Homo sapiens: one gene and its partners. The protein of the gene in region 3 purifies or fractionates together with the protein of the main gene of each other region. This does not show direct contact. Each region holds a gene or a part of one and is shown on either strand. Other genes may lie near its edges.

Region 1 (5,324 bases), on a different chromosome or scaffold from region 3:
TAAAAGAATGCCTAGGCTGGGTGTGTTGGCTCCCGCCTGTAATCCCAGCACATTGGGAGGCCAAGGTGGGTGGATCACATGAGGTCAGGAGTTTGAGACCAGCCTGACCAGTACGGTGAAACCCCGTCTCTGCTAAAAATACAAAAATTAGCCAGGAGTGCTGGCAGATGTCTATAATCCCAGCTACTCGGAAGGCTGAAGCTGGAGAATTGCTTGAACCCGGGAGATAGAGGTTGCAGTGAGCTGGAGATTGCGCCACTGCACTCTAGCCTGGGTGACAGAGCAAGACTCCGTGTCCAAAAAAAAAAAAAAAAAAAAGAATGCCTAATACATTCCTTATCTGATTAATGGACTTTTAATTTTCATAGGTAGAATCTTCCTTTTTTTGTGTATCAATTAATCCCCTGTGATAATACGTGCTGGATATGTATGTTCCAGTCAGTCATCACATACAGAAATGAACTAAAATTACTAAATCTTTTAGAAACAAAAATCAAGGATTCACAAACTATGGCATTTTATTTCAGAGCCTTTGCTTACATTTGTACAATATATTACATAATTCTTCATTGTTTGCAGATCCTAATATATACTTTATAGCTTTTATTCTATAAGCTTTTTTCTTCAACATTTTGCTGTCAACAAATCTTTACAGTCCTGTACAAATTTGAATAACTTGAAACCATTTTCAACAAAATTAGTTACTGTAAGCACACACTACAAGACTGAAAATGCTTTTCTTAGAAAAGTTGAATGTAAAGGATTCTGACACGTTAGCATCTACAACAAAACGCATTGAAATTCCCACGTCGTATTGCCAGGAAACAAAGAAAACATGCCAGCCCCATCCAAAAAAAGTACACAGAACTACAATTAAAACAGTAAAACAGTCTGTACAATAAAGTACTGTGTATTAACAGTGCCAGATATTAAATAGCTTGAATGAACACATCCACAATATACAAATGTCTTACAAAGGTGAAGAATTAAATACAAGTGCCAAACAGAACAGAGATTGGAATCATACAACATAAAGTCAATACAAGTGAAAACAATTTTGCATTCATTTTGGATTTTATACAAGGCATTTAATTTTATAGGCCTACCACCCCCATTAGCTATTTATATTTAAAATAACCACCATCCTTTTGAGACAGTTCCTATCAACAATCTTGAACCATACTAATACATTACTTGTTCCTGAAGTCCTTTTGTTGTAGCTCATAATAAAATAAGCAATACAAATGAATTATCTGTATTTAAGGGAAAAGAAACATTTACAAGAAAACACAAAAATATAACTGTTATAATTCATTATGAATAAATATACACTTTGAACTGGCTAAGTACAATCTTTATACATTGTTTAAGATTTAATACAGTTTATTAGCCATTTTCTTTTTTCACACAATGTATATCAAAATTAAAAAAAAATACTGATTTATAGAAAAATGGCAAAGTACAGTAGTTCCATTCCAATTTGAAGGGCCATGAAAAGCCACTGCAAGACCTTTTAGCCTAATTCAAACCTGTAAACATGTTCAGTCTTTTTTAAAGAGAATCTTTAATATTTGGTTACCAGGATTGATGTCTAATATCCTGTTAACTGCAGGTTTTGAATTTATTACATGTGCTTGACTTATACAATTAAAGCCACCCTAAGGTGACTTGCTTTAAAAAACAATTACCTTGTACAAATGAAAATAGGTTCATATTTTTTCATAAATAAATGGAAAAATATCAAATGTTCCAGCTTTAACAAAATACAAGGGAATACATATACAGTAAGTTATCTTAACATGTTCTGACCCACCCCTTAACTATGCTTACTGTATTGTCTCTACAGGCAGTGAAAAGCCTCCATTTGCCACAGTGGAAGGCCTTCCAGTTACCAGACACACAATTCCCAGACAAGTTGGAAACAATTATTGCTTGAGGAAAAGCAGTTCATTGTACTTTTTCTTCATAAAAAAGTGCACTTAAGTGCCAAGTCAGCTTGTCAAGAAACAATTTTTAAATATAAAATAGTGCTTGTCTGATATTTTTTTGTGCCACTGTGCAGTATAAAAAAAAAGTGGCCCTCAACAGCCATTAAGTGCAAAGTGCTTTAGCAAGTCCTGCTGTCACCTGCACTCAACTGACATTCCATTTTGTGATGCGCTGGACATTGACGGTTCAGCTAAAGTTAACATAACAGCAGCTGTTATGGAACTGGATGAAGGTGAAGAGGAGGATGAGGATGTAGCAGCACCTAAGGAAAAGGGAGACCAAACCAAGAGCTTAATAAAAATTTATGTCTAACAATAGACAGAAAATACTAGTCCTCTGAACTAAAATTCCGCTATATTGTCCAAAATCATTTAGCTTACAACAACAGTGGTCAATTCTCACAGTTCTACGATGTGAAGAAAGGAAAAGCTAGTGTAGCTCAAGAAGCTAGACAGTGCCCAACTACAGAAGTAATGAAAAGGACAGACCAGGGAAGGCTCCTGCGTGGGTCAAAGAGGGAAAGAACTGTGCCTAGTCTACAAGACACAGAAATAAAATACAGAATACACTTTTTGTAACAGTGAAACAAGTATCAAAACAGGAAAAATCTGCAATCCATCCAAAAATCATTTGTCCCCTCCTAATCCCTCCATCTTTCTGTACTTAGGAGTTTTCTTGTACATGTAAATGGTGACAAGAGTGGGAGGCTTAATTGCTTCTTCAAGTTGGATCAAAACAGTGCATAGCTCAACTGTTGCATTCTCCGCCACTAGGTTTACAAAGCAAATAACACATTAGTTATTTTCATCAGAGGAAGTCTCTCACTGTTTCCTTTTTTCGTTTTTTTTTGTTTGTTTGTTTTTTGAGACAAAGTCTCGCTCTGTCTGTCGCCCAGGCTGGAGTGCAGTGGCTCGATCTTGGCTCACTAAAAGTTCTGCCTCCTGAGTTCACGCCATTCTCCTGCCTCAGCCCCCCCAGTAGCTGGGACTATAAGCGCCCGCCACCACGCCCGGCTAATTTTTTTGTATTTTTAGTAGAGATGGGGTTTCACCATGTTAGCCAGGATGGTCTCGATCTCCTGACCTCATGATCCGCCCATCTCAGCCTCCCAAAATGCCGGGATTACAGGTGTGAGCCACCGCGCCCAGCCTGTTTGTTTTTTTGAGACGGAGTCTCACTCTGTCGCCCAGGCTGGAGTGCAGTGGTGCGATCTCGGCTCACTGCAAGCTCCGCCTTCCAGGTTCACGCCATTCTCCTGCCTCAGCCTCCTTTTTTTTTTTTTTCCTTTGAGATGGGGGTCTTGCTCTGTTGCCCAGGCTGGACTGCAGCAGTGCAATCTCAGCTCACTGCAACCTTTGCCTCCTGGGTTCAAGCAATTTTCCTGTCTCAGCCTCCTGAGTATCTGGGATTACAGGCATGCGCCACCATGTCCGGCTAATGTTTCTATTTTTAGTAGAGATGGGGTTTCGTCATGTTGGCCAGTCTGGTCTCGAACTCCTGACCTCAGGTGATCTGCCTGCCTTGGCTTCCCTAAGTGCTGGAATTACAGGCGTGAGCAATTGCGCCCGGCCTCTCTGTTATAAATTAGTGTTCATAAATTAATATTTTTAAATACATGCACAGATTTAAAAAATTCATTCAGTACAGGGGTAATAGGATAGAAAAGCAAATCTCACTCTCATCCAGGAACCTCCTAATCACCCAAATTCCCTTCCCCATTGCTACCAGTTGATTCATATTCATTACAACTCTAGAAAAAAGGCTGGCAAAAAAACTACCCCAGGGGCAAATCTGGCTTACTTGTCTTTGGAAAGAAAAATTGTACTGGAACACAGCCATGCCTATTTGTTTACATATTGCCTATGGGAGTTTTCACACTTACCATGGCAGAGATAAGTAGTTTCTACAGAGACCACATGGCCCACAAAGCCTAACATATTTATTGTCTCTTTACAGAAAATGTTTGCAACCCCTGTTCTACAGGAATTTTATCTCTAGAATCTAGAGATATGATATGCAAATTTAAAATATATAGATATAGCAACACCTTTAAAAACATAAGTGGAGGCCGGGCACGGTGGCTCACACCTGTAATCCCAGCACTTTGGGAGGACTAGGTGGGCGGATCACAAGGTCAGGAGATCGAGACCATCCTGGCTAACACAATGAAACTCAGTCTCTACTAAAAATACAAAAAATTAGCCAGATGTGGTGGTGGGCGCCTGTAGTCCCAGCTACTAGAGAGGCTGAGGCAGGAGAATGGCGTGAACCCGGGAGGCGGAGCTTGCAGTGAGCCAAGATTGCACCACTACACTCCAGCCTGGATGACAGAGAGATACTCTGTCTCAAAAATTAATAATAATATTACAAAAATTAGCTGGGCATGGCGGCACGCACCTGTAGTCCTAGCTACCCGGGAGGCTGAGGCAGGAGAATCGCTTGAACCGGAAGGCAGAGGTTGCAGTGAGCCAAGATCGCGCCACTGCACTCCAGCCTGGTGACTGACCGAGACTCCGTCTCAAAAAAAAAAAAAAAAAAAAAAAACCACACACACACAAGTGGAAGCATAGTTCAGTGTCTGACTTTTTTTTAAACAATATATTTTAAGAGATTGTTCCATATCAGTACATACAGATCCTTTTCTTTTCAAAGTTGAGTAATATTCTACTATATTACAACTCATAACTTATATATTTCACTACACTGTTCCTGCATTGGTTTTAGTTTTAATTTTTTTGGTAAGAATGATACCTTATTTGGGCCAGTCGCAGTGGCTCATGCCTGTAATCCCAGCACTTTGGGAGACTGAAGCAGGCGGATCACGAAGTCAAGAGATCGAGCCATCCTGCATCCTGGCCAACATGGTGAAACCCCATCTCTACTAAAAATAAAAAATTAGCTGGGCGTGGCAGCACGCTTGTAATCCCAGCCACTCGGGAGACTGAGGCAGGATAATCGCTTGAACTCAGGAGGCGGAGGTTGTAGTGAGCTGAGATCGCGCCACTGCACTCCAGCCTGGGCGACAGAGCAAAACTCCATCTCCAAAAAAAAAGAATGATACCTTATTTGATTTGCATTTCTTTGGTAACCAGGATAAGCATTTTCCTATGGATTTTTCTTAAAATAGTATTTAGGAACCGACTTTTAATGCTAACCCAGTAGAGAGGCTCTATTTAGCAAAATCATTCATTATAAAGAATTTGTGGTGACTATATTTACAAAACATTGTTTAGAAGGAGTTTCTGGATAGATGTCTTTTTTTTTTTGAGACAGAGTTTAGCTCTTGTTGCCCAGGCTGGAGTGCAATGGCATGATCTCCGTTCACTGCAACATCT
Region 2 (7,546 bases), on a different chromosome or scaffold from region 3:
TGTGTTATGGCAGAATTTGACATTATCCTTCCTCGATCCCTGCCTTTTAAGATCTATAGCCCACAGTTTATGAGGAATCCTAAGAAATAAGCAGTCCCTACTTTTATACATACAATATATTTCTTCCTGAACACTATTGTTTAAAGCGAATTGCCATATGGCCAGATCCTAAGTGAACGTGTGTTACTGCCTTCATTAGGTTGGACATCAGCAGAAACTGTCAACTAAGTAGTGAGAAGTCAATGTGTTGGTCATTAAAAAGAACATTAAACAAATGGGCAAAATATCAAGATGCAGAAAGTGGGCACTGCTTATATAGGAGTTCTTCTATCTTAAAATTTGCACTGTAAGGATGAAAAGCTTTTTAAAAACAAATGCGAAGCAAGCTCTTCTAACAGCATCATCCCCAAAGGCTATGTGGTCTAAAAACCCACTAGCCCGAAACAGTTGGTTATATATTATACCTTGAAGTCTGTGTTGTTTACGTGTTCAAAAACCAAGGCGGGGGTTCGTGACTAGGGGAAAAGAACAAAAACAAAAACACACATTAGCAATAGCCCTGACAGCTTTAATGGGGACAATGTTTGCGGATGCTGCGTGGTGAAATTTGGCAGTCCTCGCCTCAGTAGTAAGAAACCCTCTATTGCTACAAGCCCTCCCCGCTCTGATCATCACCGCACTTAGGTCATTTTTGGGATGGATTTCAAACAGAAGACATGGAGCTGAAGTCTCACCAGGCTCTAGGCAGCCCGACAATGCGCCCATCGCCCATCGGCATCGGACCTGAGTTTGCAAAATGGATTAACACATTTCAGTTTCCAGTGCTATCAGTCTCTTAGCCTAGAAGAATAAGAAATAGTCTGTGGGTGGAGGTCTCTTTGAAAGAAAGACCCAAGCTAGTTAAATGGTATATCTGATTAAGCACTTTCAAAGCAGGACTTAATGATGAGGGTTGGGGGAGGGAACAAAAAGAGGCCAGTTGTGCTCCAGGTCAAACACCATCTCAGCTCTGGCGGGCCTTGCTAACACCTACTATACTCACCACAGGGTCTTTTACAATGTCTGCCAGTGTGATGATGTTGGGACCTCCTCTCAAATTCTCCAAAATCTTTATTTCACGCTTAATTTTCTTCTTTTTTACTGGCTGAAAGGGGAAAAGTACATCAGCAAAAAAAAAAAAAAAAAATTTTTTCAGAGTATTTCAACACGTAGTGTAATACATAAATGATAAATGGCTTACTTATGAGCACACCTTGAAGGAAGAAAATGTGTCACATTCGTCTCTGAATCCTTCTCCTAGCACTGTGCCAGGTATTCTGCAGGTACTTACAAATGTTGAATTGAAAGAAAAAAAGATTTCTATTCCAAAGACCAGACACTTCTGCAGAATTAGCATTTCAATCATCAGTCTTGATGTTAATGTTTTAAAACATGTTAAACATGTTAATGTCTTAAAACCTTACAAAGTAGCAATTTAAATCGTTAGTAATACTAAAGTATATCAAACTTTTTATCAATTAGGATGAAACATGGGCCCTTTCCATTTCTTCCTCTAATTAGGGCCAACAACAAGGATGGCCAAAACATCTTTGTGTAGCACAACCCTGAGGGTAAAGGGTGAGTCTTGGAGTCACAATGCCCAATGTGAAACCTACCTTTACTACCTGCTGGCTGTTAATGGCAAACTACATAACCTCTCTAAGCCTTTCATTAAGTGTAAAATGAGTAACAAGAGTACCCATCTCATAAGATTGTTGCAAGAATCAAATGAGGTATTCGAAAGATTTCGGAATATGGCTGAAACATAACATAATAATAACTGTCTAGCCTGATCACCAATGCTCTTTTTTTTTTTTTTTTTTTTTTGAGACAGAGTCTTGCTCTGTCACCCAGGCTGGAGTGCAGTGGTGCAATCTTGGCTCACTGCAACCTCCGCCTCCTGGGTTCACGCCATTCTCTTGCCTCAGCCTCCCGAGTAGCTGGGACTACAGGCACCCGCCACCAGGCCAGGCTAATTTTTGTATTTTTAGTAGAGACGGGGTTTCACCGTGTTAGCCAGGATGGTCTCGATCTCCTGACCTCGTGATCTGCCTGCCTCGGCCTCCCAAAGTGCCAATACTCTTATAAATGAACCCCTCCATTCTAAAGAGTATTCTGCAGAGCATATCTTAAACATTCCTTTGTCCTTACCCATTCTTTCCACATCTGTTCTAGTATGGAATCCTTTTCATTTTTTTCTGAGGAGGGCCTTGGTCCCACTGCACCTCCTTTATAAAGCCTTTTTTTTTTTTTGAGACAGAGTCTTGCTCTGTCGCCCAGGCTGGAGTGTAGTAGCATGATCTCAGCTCACTGCAACTTCCGCCTCCCGGGTTCAAGCAATTCTCCTGCCTCAGCCTCCCGAGTAGCTGGGATTACAGGCGCCAGCCACCATGCCCAGCTAATTTTTGTATTTTTAGTAGAGACAGGGTTTCATCATGTTGGTCAGGATCGTCTCGAACTCCTGACCTCATGATCCGCCTGCCTTGGCCTTCCAAAGTGCTGGGATTATAGGCATGAGCCACTGTGCCTGGGCTTATATTATAAAGCCTTCTCCTGAATAGTCTAAAACAGTGCTGGCCCAAAGGAAATATAATACAAACCACATGTGTAATTTTAAATGTGTTAGTAGCCACATCAAGAAAATTTTAAAAAGGACAAAATTAATGTACTTTATTAATCTAAAATCTTAACATATAAATCAATATAAAAATTATTAATCTATTTTACCTTTTTTTGTATTAAACCCTTGAAATCTAATGTATTTTACTCTTACAGCATATCTCAATTCAGCCCAGCCATATTTCAAGTGCTTAACAGCCTCATGTGGCCTGCGTGCCTGCTGTACTGGACTGTGCAGGTCTTTTCCTAGGGTGTTGGTCACCTCAGACTAGATGCACTGCATATAACTCTTAGAAGTTAAGTACATCTCATCTCTTCATTAACAAGATTGGTGGTTACTAAAGTTTGATGACCAACAATCACCTGGATTTTTTTAATATACAGACTCACAGAACCCACCAAGATTCACTAAATCAAAATCTTGAGAGGGAAACGGGGGATTTATTTTTAGATACTTTCCAGGCTGATGATCCAGGTCCAGAAACTACCAAATAATACTATAAATTCTTTTAACTTTGTCTTAAGCCTCAAGCACATGATAGCAGAAAGCAAGCAGATTTTGGAAACATTGACAGTTCTCAAAACCTGGCTTTGTGGTTGTGCAGTGTTCAGAAAAGCATTTAAATGTTTCTCACTGCTGAAAGGGACTATACTCGCCTGTTAGTGATTTACATACCACAGTTAGAACAGGTCCAATGCAAAGTGGTACCCAATAAACAGAAGCTATTTTACTAATGACTTCCATGTAGTCCATTGAATTCAACCCACGACCTCTTACCCAATACAATATCTACCTAAGAAACAAGATAATATAAGTCTTCTCTTCCTGCTTCAACTATTCAGATCTTTATAAACTGTTATATTATCTGGGAGATCTTTCCACCCTGCAGAGACTAACCCAACAACTTACCTCCTGTTTTCCATTAACCCAACTGCTGGTTTTTTAGTGGAAAAAAAAAGCTTCTGGTTGACAAAACTACTCTACAGAATGCTTCAAATCTATAAACTTAAAAAGCTGGTTTGTGACAGACCAGGCAGCTGACTCAGGCCCGAATTTAATGCGATCAATGCAACTTTTGTCTTATTAAATAGGGGAGATTAAAAATTTTAAATATGGTTTACAAAGGAAATTCATCTATACTTACACCACCTACCCACAGTTACAGTAAAATATACAATACAGTTAGAAAGACTGAGCTGAAAAAAATCTTTCTAAATCACCCTTCATTCAAAATCATCAAGGGCTCACAATTACCTAGAAGAGATAGTCATATAATTTTAAGACTGCAAGGAAATGCAGAGATTATTTTTTCCAGGCCTTCGCCAACTTAATCTCTCTTTCCAAGTTCAACTCCTATGTATGGTCACATAACATCTTTCACATGAAATATTTCTCTCACTTTTCCCTCCTCCTCTTTTCTTATCTTGGTGCACTCTACAGCCTGCTTCCCTTCACCACTTCCACCCAACACCTATCCAAATCCTCCTCCCATTCAGCCTGAAGACAGCTCCTGGGAGCTTTTCCTAACTACTACCCTCTTCTGAACTGTAGACCCACTATGCATGCTTTTCATGTGGCTCTAAATAATAATATATCACCTCATTCTATCATATACCTTTCCATATGAATATCACCATACAATCACAAAGAACTCCAGTCTCCAACGTATGTATATATACACACAATTTTGTGTTTGATCCTTTTTGTTTTTTGAGACAGGGTCTCATTCTCATCGCCCAGGCTGGAGTGCAGTGGTTTGATCATAGATCCGTGCAACCTTCAACTTCCAGGCTCAAGCGATCCTCCCACTTTAGCCCCTCGAGGACCTGCGACTAAAGGCACATGCCACCATGCTCAGCCAACATTCTTTTTAATAGATGGATAAACATGTCCTAGGTTAAAAGGACTACTATGGCTAGTCACCCACATGTTTTGATTTCCAACCTAGTTCTCTTTCTACATATTTCAAGACAGATATAAATACTTAAACTCTCTGGTTCTCAAAGGGCATGTGAAGCACCCCAGCAATGCACAGGAATACTGTGGAACACTTTACATTTTTGAGGAAGACACATCAACCCATCGTTGAATCTGCCAGACACTGGGTGCACTGCCAGCTTGAGGTGGTTCGTAGTTTCAACATTAGATTGTGTTACACTCCTCGTGATGGATTGTGTTATACTCCTCGCGATGGCATATTTTTGTGAAGCTGGGTTTGCAGTAGTTGCTGTGGTAAAAAGCAAGTACTGCACAAAAATCAATGACAGGAAATGAGGGTGGTGGTGTCCAACCAATGACAACATTTGAAAAGCTATGCAGCAACAGGTCTACATAACCCAACAGTAACAAATTATAGTTATATAAGAACAAATTTAACTTTTTTCTTTTAATTTATGTGAATAACTTTTTAAATGGCTACCAAGTTGCTAAGATATAAATACTTAGCGGGCAGGCGCAGTGGCTCACGCCTGTAATCCCAGCACTTTGGGAGGCCGAGGCGGGCGGATCACCTGAGGTCAGGAGTTTGAGACCAGCCTGACCAATATGGTGAAACCCCGTCTCTATTAAAATTACAAAAATTAGCCGGGCATTGCTGGCGTGCATCTGTAGTCCCAGCTACTTGGGAGGCTAAGGCAGGAGAATCGCTTGAACCCAGGAGGCGGAGGTTGCAGTGAGCCGAGATCGCGCCACTGCACTCCAGCCTGGGCGACAGAGCGAGACTCCTTCTCAAAACAAAAACAAAAACAATAAAAAAAACAAAACTTACTTAGCTATTTGGACCTTGCTACTTAATACAGAGAACTATGAGGTATTTCTTGACTTAGGAGTACCGTGAAAAATTAAAGACAGTATAAGTGTTATAAATTGAGAAAGTTTGGAAACTTCTACTTTTCAGTGTCAAATATGAAAAAGTTCCTGTGGTAAGGAACTATATGCTAAGTTCCCAATATATGACAGTGCACAGCATAGTTATAACTAAATTAAAAGTTGTATATTGGTCTCCCAGAGGCCAAATCTGGCCTGTGCATTGTTTTTTTAAAATCTTGAGCCAACACTTAAAAGTCAGGAAAATTCATATACAAATATAAATTTCTGGCTTTTATTTGCAAAACAGAGTATCAAGCAACAATGGACTTGCATTACTGCAGGGCAATCATCAGCTTCAGCTGAGAAGCAGCTAACTCCTTTTGAAGAGGCATGTGTTTCCCAGTTTGTTTCAGTCCCTACCACTCACATCACCTAAGCAAGGGCAATTACACCCGACTAGCTGCACTAATATCATCTGTCTGTCCCCCTCGAGTCCTGTGACTCCTCATCTTTACAAAGTAGAGGCAATGATTTATTTATTGAAAACAAAAGCCTCATTATATAATGAAAAGTAAAGGAAATAAGTATTAGGCAATAACTGGGAGAGAAGAGACTGTACCTTTGCTCCCTTACTCTGCCACAACCTAGCTATATGAGTCAACTCAAATCACTTCTCTTGCTTCAGTTTCCCGATCTGTCAAATAAGCAGAACTTGTTCTATTGAGTTCATAGGATACAATAAAATTTTATTTATTTGCTTTGGCACCAAAAACCTTTTAAATGCTGTTTTAAAAAAGTCTTCAAAACTACTTTTAAAAATCTATATTCCAAATACCTCTGAAATTATCTCTTGTACTCACCTTGAGAATTTTAACAACAACTTTTTCATTATTTGTGATGTTGATGGCTTCAAATACTTCACTGTATTTACCTCGGCCTAATTTTCGAACCAGCTGGTAGTCATCTTGATTTCTGTGGACACAAACAAAATGACTTATAAACGGTCAAATTATCAGCATCAATTCAAATTACAGGAATCTATTACCAGCAGCTGTAATAGAAATAAGAAGTATTTCAAACAATTCCCAAATAGGTTTTTTTTTTTTTTTTTTTTTTTTTGGAGATGGAGTCTCACTCTGTCGCCCAGGCTAGAGTGCAGTGGCGCGATCTCTGCTGACTGCCAGCTCCACCTCCCGGGTTCACACCATTCTCCTGCCTCAGCCTCCCGAGCAGCTGGGACCACAGGCGCCTGCCACCATGCCCGGCTAATTTTTTGAATTTTTAGTAGAGACGGCGGGTCCTCACCGTGTTAACCAGGATGGTCTCGATCTCCTGACCTCGTGATTCGTCCGCCTCGGCCTCCCAAAGTGCTGGGATTACAGGCGTGAGCCACCGCGCCTGGCCCATTGTATTTTTTTTTTTTTTAAATTAGGCCAATTAAAATACGTGTGTTTCAAATCCTAGAATTAGAAAAACTTATACCTTTCAATTATTCTTTCTAATCCCAAACTGTTTACATCTTTATTGGCACATGACATGGAGCTGGCTTGTATTAAGGTTTGTTCTAAATACGTTTGTCTCCAACAAGAGACAGCTTTCCCCAAGAGAATAATTTTTTTTTTTTTTTTTTTTTTTGAGACGGAGTCTTGCTCTGTCGCCCAGGCTGGAGTGCAGTGGCGTGATCTCGGCTCGCTGCAAGCCCCGCCTCCCAGGTTCACGCCATTCTCCTGCCTCAGCCTCCCCTAGTAGCTGGGACTACAGGCGCCCACCACCACGCCCGGCTAATTTTTTTGTATTTTTAGTAAAGACGGGGTTTCACCGTGTTAGCCAGGATGGTCTCGATCTCCTGACCTTGTGATCCGCCCGCCTTGGCCTCCCAAAGTGCTGGGATTACAGGCGTGAGCCACCGCACCCGGCCGGAGAATAATTTTTATATATTCTTGTCCCTTAGTGCTTGGTCCAGTGTTGGCACTTAGCAGGAACTAAAAACATTTTGCAAGACTGTTTCAATCTAGCCACACTTTGGCAGCAGCTGATTTTTAACAGGCCTCTTTGAAGGTAAATGGCTTTCAAATGTAT
Region 3 (8,359 bases):
ATGAAAAGCACTATGCTAAACTACTGAATGCCAGGGATATAACCTCTTAATTCCAGTTAAAATTCCCAGGTACTAACATCTGCCATGCACAGCTCTCCAGTGTCTTGTCTGCTCCCACTGAAGATGTAAAAAGAATTATACTTCACCAGGAATCTTGTCAAATTACTACACACCTCCTTCCTTAAAAAAGAAAAAAAGTCTTTCTCTGTATGTAAATTATTAAAACCCTCTTAATTACGAAGTGCCAATCTTTCTAAGCTATTTATCTCTGAACAAAATTATAGTATATAAAATAATTATCTGGAGATTATGAAGCATTTATGAAAATGTTCCTAATACAGCAAAACCAGGTTCTTACTTGAATCCTTATAGACTCTTCTGTGTTCCCCAGTATACAGCACTGCAAATCATGGGAACTATATATGTAGCCCAAATTTTCCTCAATGGTCAATCGTTCTCCACTATCTCTCTCAGTTTATGGCATCAGAAAAAACCACCTGGATTTTTTGTCTCCCCACCAATTCTATTACAGCCATCATTTGCTAAACTAAAATGCTATTGCTTTTGCAACTTCCTTAGCAGAGAAGGTAGGACCCACCTACCCTTTTCACATAAATATAGCACAGGGTACCACTCAGGCCCTACTAACCAAAGCACAAATCTAGAATTTCACTTCAGATAATTAACCAGAGGCTCATTTAGACATTACTGCATAAATAAACATTGGTTCCATGTTTATTTTTCTCATGAAAAATGTGAAAAACATTGAAATAATTTCTCTCAATAGGAAAAGATAATGTATCAAGTGAAAGCAAAAACCTCATCTAATGTGGTTCTGCTATCTAAATCTGAAATGCCCTAAGGCAACTCTCCAATACAGGCTGGAGGGCAACGCTACAGAAGTCACATACAGAAGGCTACCCTGATCCACAATTCCACCCTCCTCTGAAATAAAAAGGGCAACAACACTGTACTATGTAGAGTATAAATAGAAAGTGGTCTAGATGGTCTAACATAAGTACATAAAATAAAAAAGAAAAGACTTTTCACCTATAGTTACCTAAATAGCAAATTCTTTAGGAAACCAAGTTTTTTTGGTTGTTTTTTGAGGCGGAGTTTTGCTCCTGTCGCCCAGGCTACAGTGCAATGGCACCATCTCGGCTCACTGCACCCTCGCCTCCCGGGTTCAAGTGATTCTCCTGCCTCAGCCTCCCCAGTAGCTGGGATTACAGGCGCTTGCCACCACGCCCAGCTTTTTTTTGTATTTTTAGTAGAAACAGGGTTTCGCCATGTAAGCCTGGCTGGTCTCGAACTCCTGACCTCAAGTGATCCACCTGCCTCGGCCTCCCAAAGTGCTAGGATTACAGGCATGAGCCACCGCGCCCGTCCAGGAAACTAAGTTTATATAGCAGAACCATGTGCACAATGAAAGCATTCAAAAATACAACTGTCAGAGATATCGGAGTATTTTATTCAAAGTCTGAGTTCTTAAAAAAAAAAAACAAACCCTACTTTATAAACAGACCAGTTTTGAGATTAAAATGTAAATCCAAACTTTCCTGTTATAAATCTCAGCCTTGTAAAGAGGAGGAGCTTCCACTGCCTTTTCAAGGCTAACTTCGTTTAAAGTCCTAACGCACCGAAACAGACGCCAAGTCTACTACCCACCACCCATTGGCTCAAAGGAAGCCCCGCCCCGTACAGCCACGGTAACTGAACATCAAGGGAACCCCAGGGAAGGTTTTCCCTCCGCCACATTTCTAGTCTCTGATGACTCCCTGCCCCTCCCCTACCATCACCACCGCGGATCTAGGGTTCCAGCACCAGCCACGCACGCTCCTACAAGAGGACCTTGGGCACTTCGCCCCAATAGTTACAACCAAGAGGGGAGTGGGGGTGACCATGCTCCCACTCTCCTGGCTGCACGGTGCCAGACACGCTGCATGGAGCAAAGCGGAGAAAGCAGCTCCGGCACAGGGCCCTTGTGCCCCCAGGCAGAAGGCATGACCCAGCCACAAGAGTAAGTCCTGACACCTCCACAGCTCCCAGTCGGCGGGTGCCCCTCCCTCCCCACGGAGACATAGGGCGGGGCAGATCTAGGCGCCGAGACTCCCAGCCAGACCCGACAGCGGGCTTTCCCTAGCACCTCCTCATTGCCAAGGAGGCGGAAACCCGGGGCCTGGGCGGGGTGCAGGGGGGGACGGCCAAGGGGAGTGGCATCACGGATCAGTACGGCCCCTCCGGCCAACCGGATCCCAAGAAGGCGGAGGAACTCAGACTTCACGCCCCCTCCCTGCCGCGCCCTGAATCTACACGCGGGAGACCCCCCCCTACCCCTCCCCGACCCCAGCAGGCCAGAGCGCGGCCGCCAGCCCGAGGCCCCGCCCACCCCAGGAGGAGGGGAGGGGGTGGTCGGCCGCAAACTGCACTCAGCGCGAAGCCGGCCCCGCCCCTTTCTCCACAATCGCACGCGCGCGCCGGCCCCGCCTCTGAGCGGCGGCGCGAGAGCCCGCCCCCCTCCGCGCGCACCGGGACTACGCTCTCCTCCCCCTCCCGCGCGGAGAGCTACCCCGCTCCGCCCCCCACCCCCCTCACACAACCACACACCTCCCGCCCGTCTGCTCTACGGGAAGCCGAGGAGGTCAGCCCCCCCCCCCCAAAATACACACCCTCGAGTCCGGCGTTACCCGCCACCAGGCTCCCGCCCGGCCCCCGGCCCAGCGTGCTCTCACCGCAAAGCTGCTTCGGCCGCTCGTCACTGCGTGTCCCTCTCAGCGTGAGCCGCGAGCTCAGCAGGGAGGCCCCGAGAACGGCGCGGGGCACAGGCCCGCCGAAGCGGACTGCCAGCTACCTCTCCACTAACGAAGCGGTCACAGGCTCCGGTGCCCAGACTGGGAAGGAGGGAGGGAGGGAGGGAGGGAAACTCCGAGGGGGGAAGGGGAGGGGGGAAGATGGAGAAACCGTCTCCGCCGCCTCTACCGCCGCGGCCGCTTCTCTGTTACCCGGGAAATCCCGCCCACTCCCCCGACCCCGCCCCGCAGAGGGAAGACTCAGCTTCGTTCCAATACAGGACGCAATACCCGCCCGTCAAAGACTCAGCCAACCACCGAGGCCTGTCTTATGATTTTCCCGCCCCTTCCCCCTCGACTGGTAGGGGAGGGGGAGCCGCTCTCCTTCTCCACGCCCCTATTGGCGGGGAGCTTCCCTAACTCAACCCCGCCTATTGGAGACGGACTGCTGAAGCCCACCCCCGAGCCCCAACACTATTGGAGGAAGCAGGGAAGCTCTTCCTGTCTCATTGGAGGACACCACATAACCCGCCCTGCAGCGTCTCAGCCACAGGCCTAACAAGTTGGCTCCCGCCTCCGCTGGTCATCGCATTGGAAGGCTACCCCTGGCTCTCCCACCGCCCCAGTAAGGTAAGTAACCGATGTGGGGTAAAATGTCTGTAAGTGAAACAGGCTCCGCCTACCGCACTGCCGGGCCAGGCCCCGCCCCAAGAGTCGGATTGGATATCTTGGCGCTGGTAGGACCCTCCATTGGCCAGGGCGCCCGTCTAGGAAGGAGCTAATTCCACCCTGCGCGAGGAGGCTGAACCTTAGCAGTCCTTTTGTGGAATGTTTACACTAGAGACTGAAGCTCGGAGTTCCAGGGCCCGAGATAGGAGGGGGAGCGGAGCTCATCAGCGGAGACTCCACATCCTAGGATTTGAAGGAAAGGCAGCCCACCATGGAGGACTCCCTCACAAAAAAAATGAGAGAATGAGAACTCATCCTTCCGTCCAGTTATCTTTACAGTTTACATTCTACACACTGCGTCCTTGTAAACACAAATATCCGGAGCAGCTGGCAACTCCTTTCAGCCAAGTAGAGTACAGAACTAAGGTCTGGAGACCTAGGCGGAGAAGTAAACTCCCTAGAGCTGAATATGCAGTCCTAAGAGGGCGGAGATAACCAAAAGAGAGGCGGGCTCTAACAGCCACCGCCCTGGCAAGCCTCCGGAAGGCGGAGCGTGAGGCACAAGGTACTCACGATCTCCCGGGTGGATCTGGAGGCATCCTCAGAACTGAGAAAGGAGAGGAAAACACCAAAACAGGCCACGGCATAAATTAACATTGGGGACATGCCACACTCAGAGAATGGATAAAATTTCCGTAGTTGGGGACATAAGATAACGGCTGTTCACCTTCTCCTTGGCCGGGAGTGTTAATAGCAGTTCCTGTGCCCTCTCTGTGTAGGTAACAGTGCCTCGAACACACAGTGAGACAAAGTGCTTTCAATTCCTAGTTTGCTTTTATTTATTCACCAAATAGGGCGTGGGCCTGACGCTGATCTTACTTTGGGGGGCGCTCTCTCAGCGCCAGGAGAGGTGACGGGATTACGTTGTTACCGCTCTCCCGAATAAGTAGAACCCTCCTCCCAGAGAGCTAAGACCCCAAGGGACACGCCCAGGGAACCCACGCCTAGGTCCAACACTGTCCTCCCTCTGCAATCCAGCGGAAACGGCCAGGAACGAGCTCTGGCAGCAGGTGGGCCTGACTCCAGCGATGGCTTCGAGCCGCGAAACCACAGCAGCGAATTGTGAACTCCAAGGGTAGCCGACAGGTGGGAGCAGCCTCGCCAGTAGCCAAGCCCTGCCCCAGGACAGAGCTCTAAAAATAAGTCAGACCAACGAAGCGACCCCAGGGCCAAACTGCTCGGAGGTTAGGAGGAAGCGGCACTCCAGCAGAACTGACCCACGGCTACTTTTAACTTTGCGCCGCCTTCCACCACTAGACTGAGTACCACAGGGCATTCCCACCATGGTATCAAGAACTACTCAGAACCCAAGCCAGCATTAGGCCGCCCACGACTTCCCGTGAACACAGGGTACCACCTGCGCTAAGATCTCGCCTAAGGGCCCCAGGCCAGGGCACTAGGTTGTCAGAGTCTCAGATACAGCCAACTAAGGACAGCCGCTGCCATGCCTAGGAAAGAACAGACACTTGCAGCGTCTGCAGAGTTCTCGAGCTTAAGCTCAGGGAAGTCAAGGGGCACGGAAATAGCCAAGCGACAGGGTTAGAACTTTAGTACTTGGCCCCGGCCCCGAAAGGCAGATCTCAAACCCAGCAGAACCTCCGGAGTTTCGCTCCCGAAATCCACTCCGCACTGTAATCCCCTGGCTTCACCCCGAAGGCTACTAGGTCTCGAGCCTCGGTGGAACCTTTGTGTGGCTTCTCGGCTCTCCCCGCCCCCCTCGCCAAGGGCGCCGAGCCTAGGACTTCCGGGCGGGAGGGCAGTTCGAAGGAGCTAGGCGGGCCTCACACATGTGCGGAGCGCGCTCAAGAGCGGAGGGAGGCGGGGAGCAAGGGTGGACTTCCCCTCCCAGCTCTCTCCGCCGGAGGAGGCCGGGCTACCCGCCCCACCAATCAGAGGCGGGGGCGGGACCTTGCGCCTCACGTCATCCGCAAGAACCGTCCCTCCTCCCTCCGCGAAAAAAAAATCCTAGCAACTTAAACTCCAGCCCGGCCTCCCGATAGGCGGAGCTCGGGAGAATGTCATCCAATCCACATCCAAGAAGGAGAAAAAAAGGGAGTCTCGCCTAGCCAGTGGAAGACAAGAGAAGGCGGGGCCTCCGGGAGAGCCGGAGGTGGGTGGGAGAGAGGAAAGGGGTCCGCCCCTCAGCTCCCCTGCAGGCGGGTTGCACAAGCCGCCGGCGGAGTAGATAGTAAACAGTCTGGGCCGAGGAGTGCAGGCAAGGGCCGCCCGGCGCTCGGTGGACTGGGCCCCTGCGCCGCCTCTCCCGGCGTCGCCCCGCCCGGCCGGGACGGTTCCCGCCGGCGCCCCGCCTACCCGCCCGCGGCCGCCATCCCGGCTGACAGGCGCGCCCCCCGCGCCCCTCCCCGCCCGCTGATGCATTTCCTTTTCCCGATTCCGAGCGTGGAGACTGTTTTCCCAGTTTCCGACCTTCACTGCCCCTTTCAGGCCACCCCCTCGTGGGCGCGCACACGCCCGCGCCCCCGCCCCCGCCCCATCCGCGCCGAGCGGTCCGCAGCAGCACCTCGCGGGAAGGGGGAGCCCGGCGGCGGCACGGTCGGGGGAGGGGAAGAGAGCAGCAGTCGCCGCCGCCGCCTTGGGGTGGGCGGGGAAGCAGGCAGCTCCATGTTTGCAAGGGGATCAGCCGGGGCCGCGGACGAAGCCGCCGAGTTTCTGGGGGTTTTCCGCACCACCGATGCGAGCTCCTTGCTGGGTCGCGGCCTGACGGGTTCCGGCACCGAATGCTGACTCGACCGCCACGGCCAGGGAGTTTGGAGACCCGGCAGCTCGCAGGGCTAGCGGCGAGGCGCAGGGGCTCTTTCCGGTGGCCTCTCCCGCCCCCGGCCGCCCCTCCCGCAAGTCCGGTGTTGCCCCCGCCCCCAGAGTCCATAACAACCGCGGGCCCACAGTGCCCGCGCCTCTCCGGAGCGCGCCCACCGCCCCCTCCAAGTTTGCGGGCAAAAACAAAACCCTCGGGGCGGCTGCCGCCCTTGTCCAGCGTGGGTAGCCAGGGAAGCCGCGGGCCCCGGCTCGCTCGCTAACTCCAGCTCTCGAGCAACTCCGAGCGCCGCGAGCTCAGTGGGCCCCGCCGACCATGCTCGAGCCGCCGCCCCCTGCCGAGCCCGCACGCCGCAGCTCCGGCCCGGTTCTAGTCGGTGTGCGGAATCCCCCTTTTCTTTCCAGTATTTTTCTTTTTAAAAAAACGGCACAACAGGAGTCGGGGGTCTCCTGCCCGCCCCTTCTCCAGTCCGCCGCCAAAACCTACCGAAACCGACTGCTCGGTGAGATAAACTAGGCTACACGGCCGGCGCAGGGACGACCCCAGGCCAGGCCCACCCCTCTCCCACGGCTCCGGCCAGGCTGGGAAACACACACACTGGCGAGCGGGCGGCGCCAAGAGCTCTCCTTCCTGGCCTGTCCCTCGCCTACCTCGGCCGCGGAACTCCGAGCCTCCCCTCAGCTCGGTCCCAGGGCCCGCAGGGCCCACACCACGTCGGGCCGGCCAGACCGAGCGGCCGGCGGACTAGCCCCCCAAACGCCTGAGATTGGGGGGACCAAATTAAAAGCAGCTGTTTAACATACCTTCCGAGCCAGGCGAGGAGTCCTGAATGGGGGGGAACGCCCCCCACGGGCTATTGGCTCCCCGGCGCTCACGTCAGTCACCCTGGGCCCGCCTCCGCCCTTCGCCCCGCCTCTTCCCCTTCATTGAACGCCCCCTCCTTCCAAAAAATATAAATTAATTAATTAAACTAAACGCGAGTGGGAGACGCATCCGTGGTAGAGGCCCATATAGCTCCCTCGCCGCCGACTCGAGTTTCTTGAGGTCCTCGGACTGGGGGGAGGCCGCCTGGGACTCGGAGATCCGCTGGGTGGACGCGGAGGACGAGCCAGCGGAGCTACCCGGCCCCAACTTCCTTCACACACACAACCCATTTGGAACTAGGTAGGAGAGAAGGGTAGGAGCACCCTAGTCACTGGCTGGAGTGGGCAGACTCCTGTGGCTGTGTGACCTAACCGTGTTCGGTCCGCTCTGTTAGGCGACTAAAAATGAGTGATGCAAACAGGAAGCCCTGCGTCCGCGGGCAACAGGCACTTGCCTGAGCACCTACTGTGGGTGAGGCAGACATTCATACGTACCTGCTGCTGGGTGCAATTACAGACTGGATGACATGCTTACTCTACCCCTCCAAGGGCTCCAGATTCAGCCGAGGAGATTCTACGTAAGGAACTAAGGCAAGGCAGGAATGTGTATGAAAATAGGAATGTGTATGTAAATAGGAGCTCAGAGAAGAGAGATTCCTTTTCGCTGAAGGAGAATTGGGAAAGGTTTCATGAAGGAGGTGGCATTCAAGTTGGGTCTTAAAGATTTCATCCAGCAAATTGGAGGGGCAGGTCATTTTCATCAAAGGACACAAAGGGGTGAATGCAAAAAAGGACCTTCATATGTGGCTGTAGTAATAAAAAAGGAGGGGTGGGGAGATGGAACAAACAGTTTAAGACTTTTAGTTGAGTAAAATTCTTGGACGTGCGCAGCAGAATGTGCAGGCAGCACGGTCACAAGGCCCACAGACCCAGAACTATAGTGTAAGATGTTTGGCACCCTGGCAGAAAGATGGGTTCTGACGATGCACTGAGAGAGAAGTGCCTATAGGCAGCAAGGGGAGGCCCAGAGGCTGTTGTAATACTGCGTTTGGAGACTGCAGAAGTGCCTCTTGTGGAAGGAATAGCTGGGGAAAGAGAAGGCTTCTTTTCTCTATCAAAGCCACCCAATCCGAAAGCTTTCCCCACCTTCAGCAGCCCTCAAGTCAAAGCTTTGACTCAGATCCTTCCTTGCCTCATTTGCT

What was found. Proteins that work in one complex are often made in the same cells at the same time.
Region 1: the proteins of SIN3A (region 3) and ARID4B purify together in Homo sapiens (affinity purification with mass spectrometry; 5 studies listed by BioGRID, with this or other methods). This does not show direct contact.
Region 2: the proteins of SIN3A (region 3) and CSNK2A1 purify together in Homo sapiens (affinity purification with mass spectrometry; 5 studies listed by BioGRID and IntAct, with this or other methods). This does not show direct contact.

The regions. Positions count from the first base shown.
Region 1 is NC_000001.11:235,166,402-235,171,725, forward strand, and holds the end of ARID4B (AT-rich interactive domain-containing protein 4B), read right to left. Parts: intron 2,252-5,324; coding exon 2,124-2,251; 3' UTR 501-2,123; downstream 1-500. UniProt on the Homo sapiens protein: Acts as a transcriptional repressor. May function in the assembly and/or enzymatic activity of the Sin3A corepressor complex or in mediating interactions between the complex and other regulatory complexes.
Region 2 is NC_000020.11:498,791-506,336, forward strand, and holds part of CSNK2A1 (casein kinase II subunit alpha), read right to left. Parts: intron 6,440-7,546; coding exon 6,328-6,439; intron 1,145-6,327; coding exon 1,043-1,144; intron 516-1,042; coding exon 465-515; intron 1-464. UniProt on the Homo sapiens protein: Catalytic subunit of a constitutively active serine/threonine-protein kinase complex that phosphorylates a large number of substrates containing acidic residues C-terminal to the phosphorylated serine or threonine.
Region 3 is NC_000015.10:75,448,691-75,457,049, forward strand, and holds the start of SIN3A (paired amphipathic helix protein Sin3a), read right to left. Parts: upstream 3,001-8,359; 5' UTR 2,733-3,000; exon of another isoform or gene 2,670-2,732; intron 1-2,669. UniProt on the Homo sapiens protein: Acts as a transcriptional repressor. Corepressor for REST. Interacts with MXI1 to repress MYC responsive genes and antagonize MYC oncogenic activities. Also interacts with MXD1-MAX heterodimers to repress transcription by tethering SIN3A to DNA.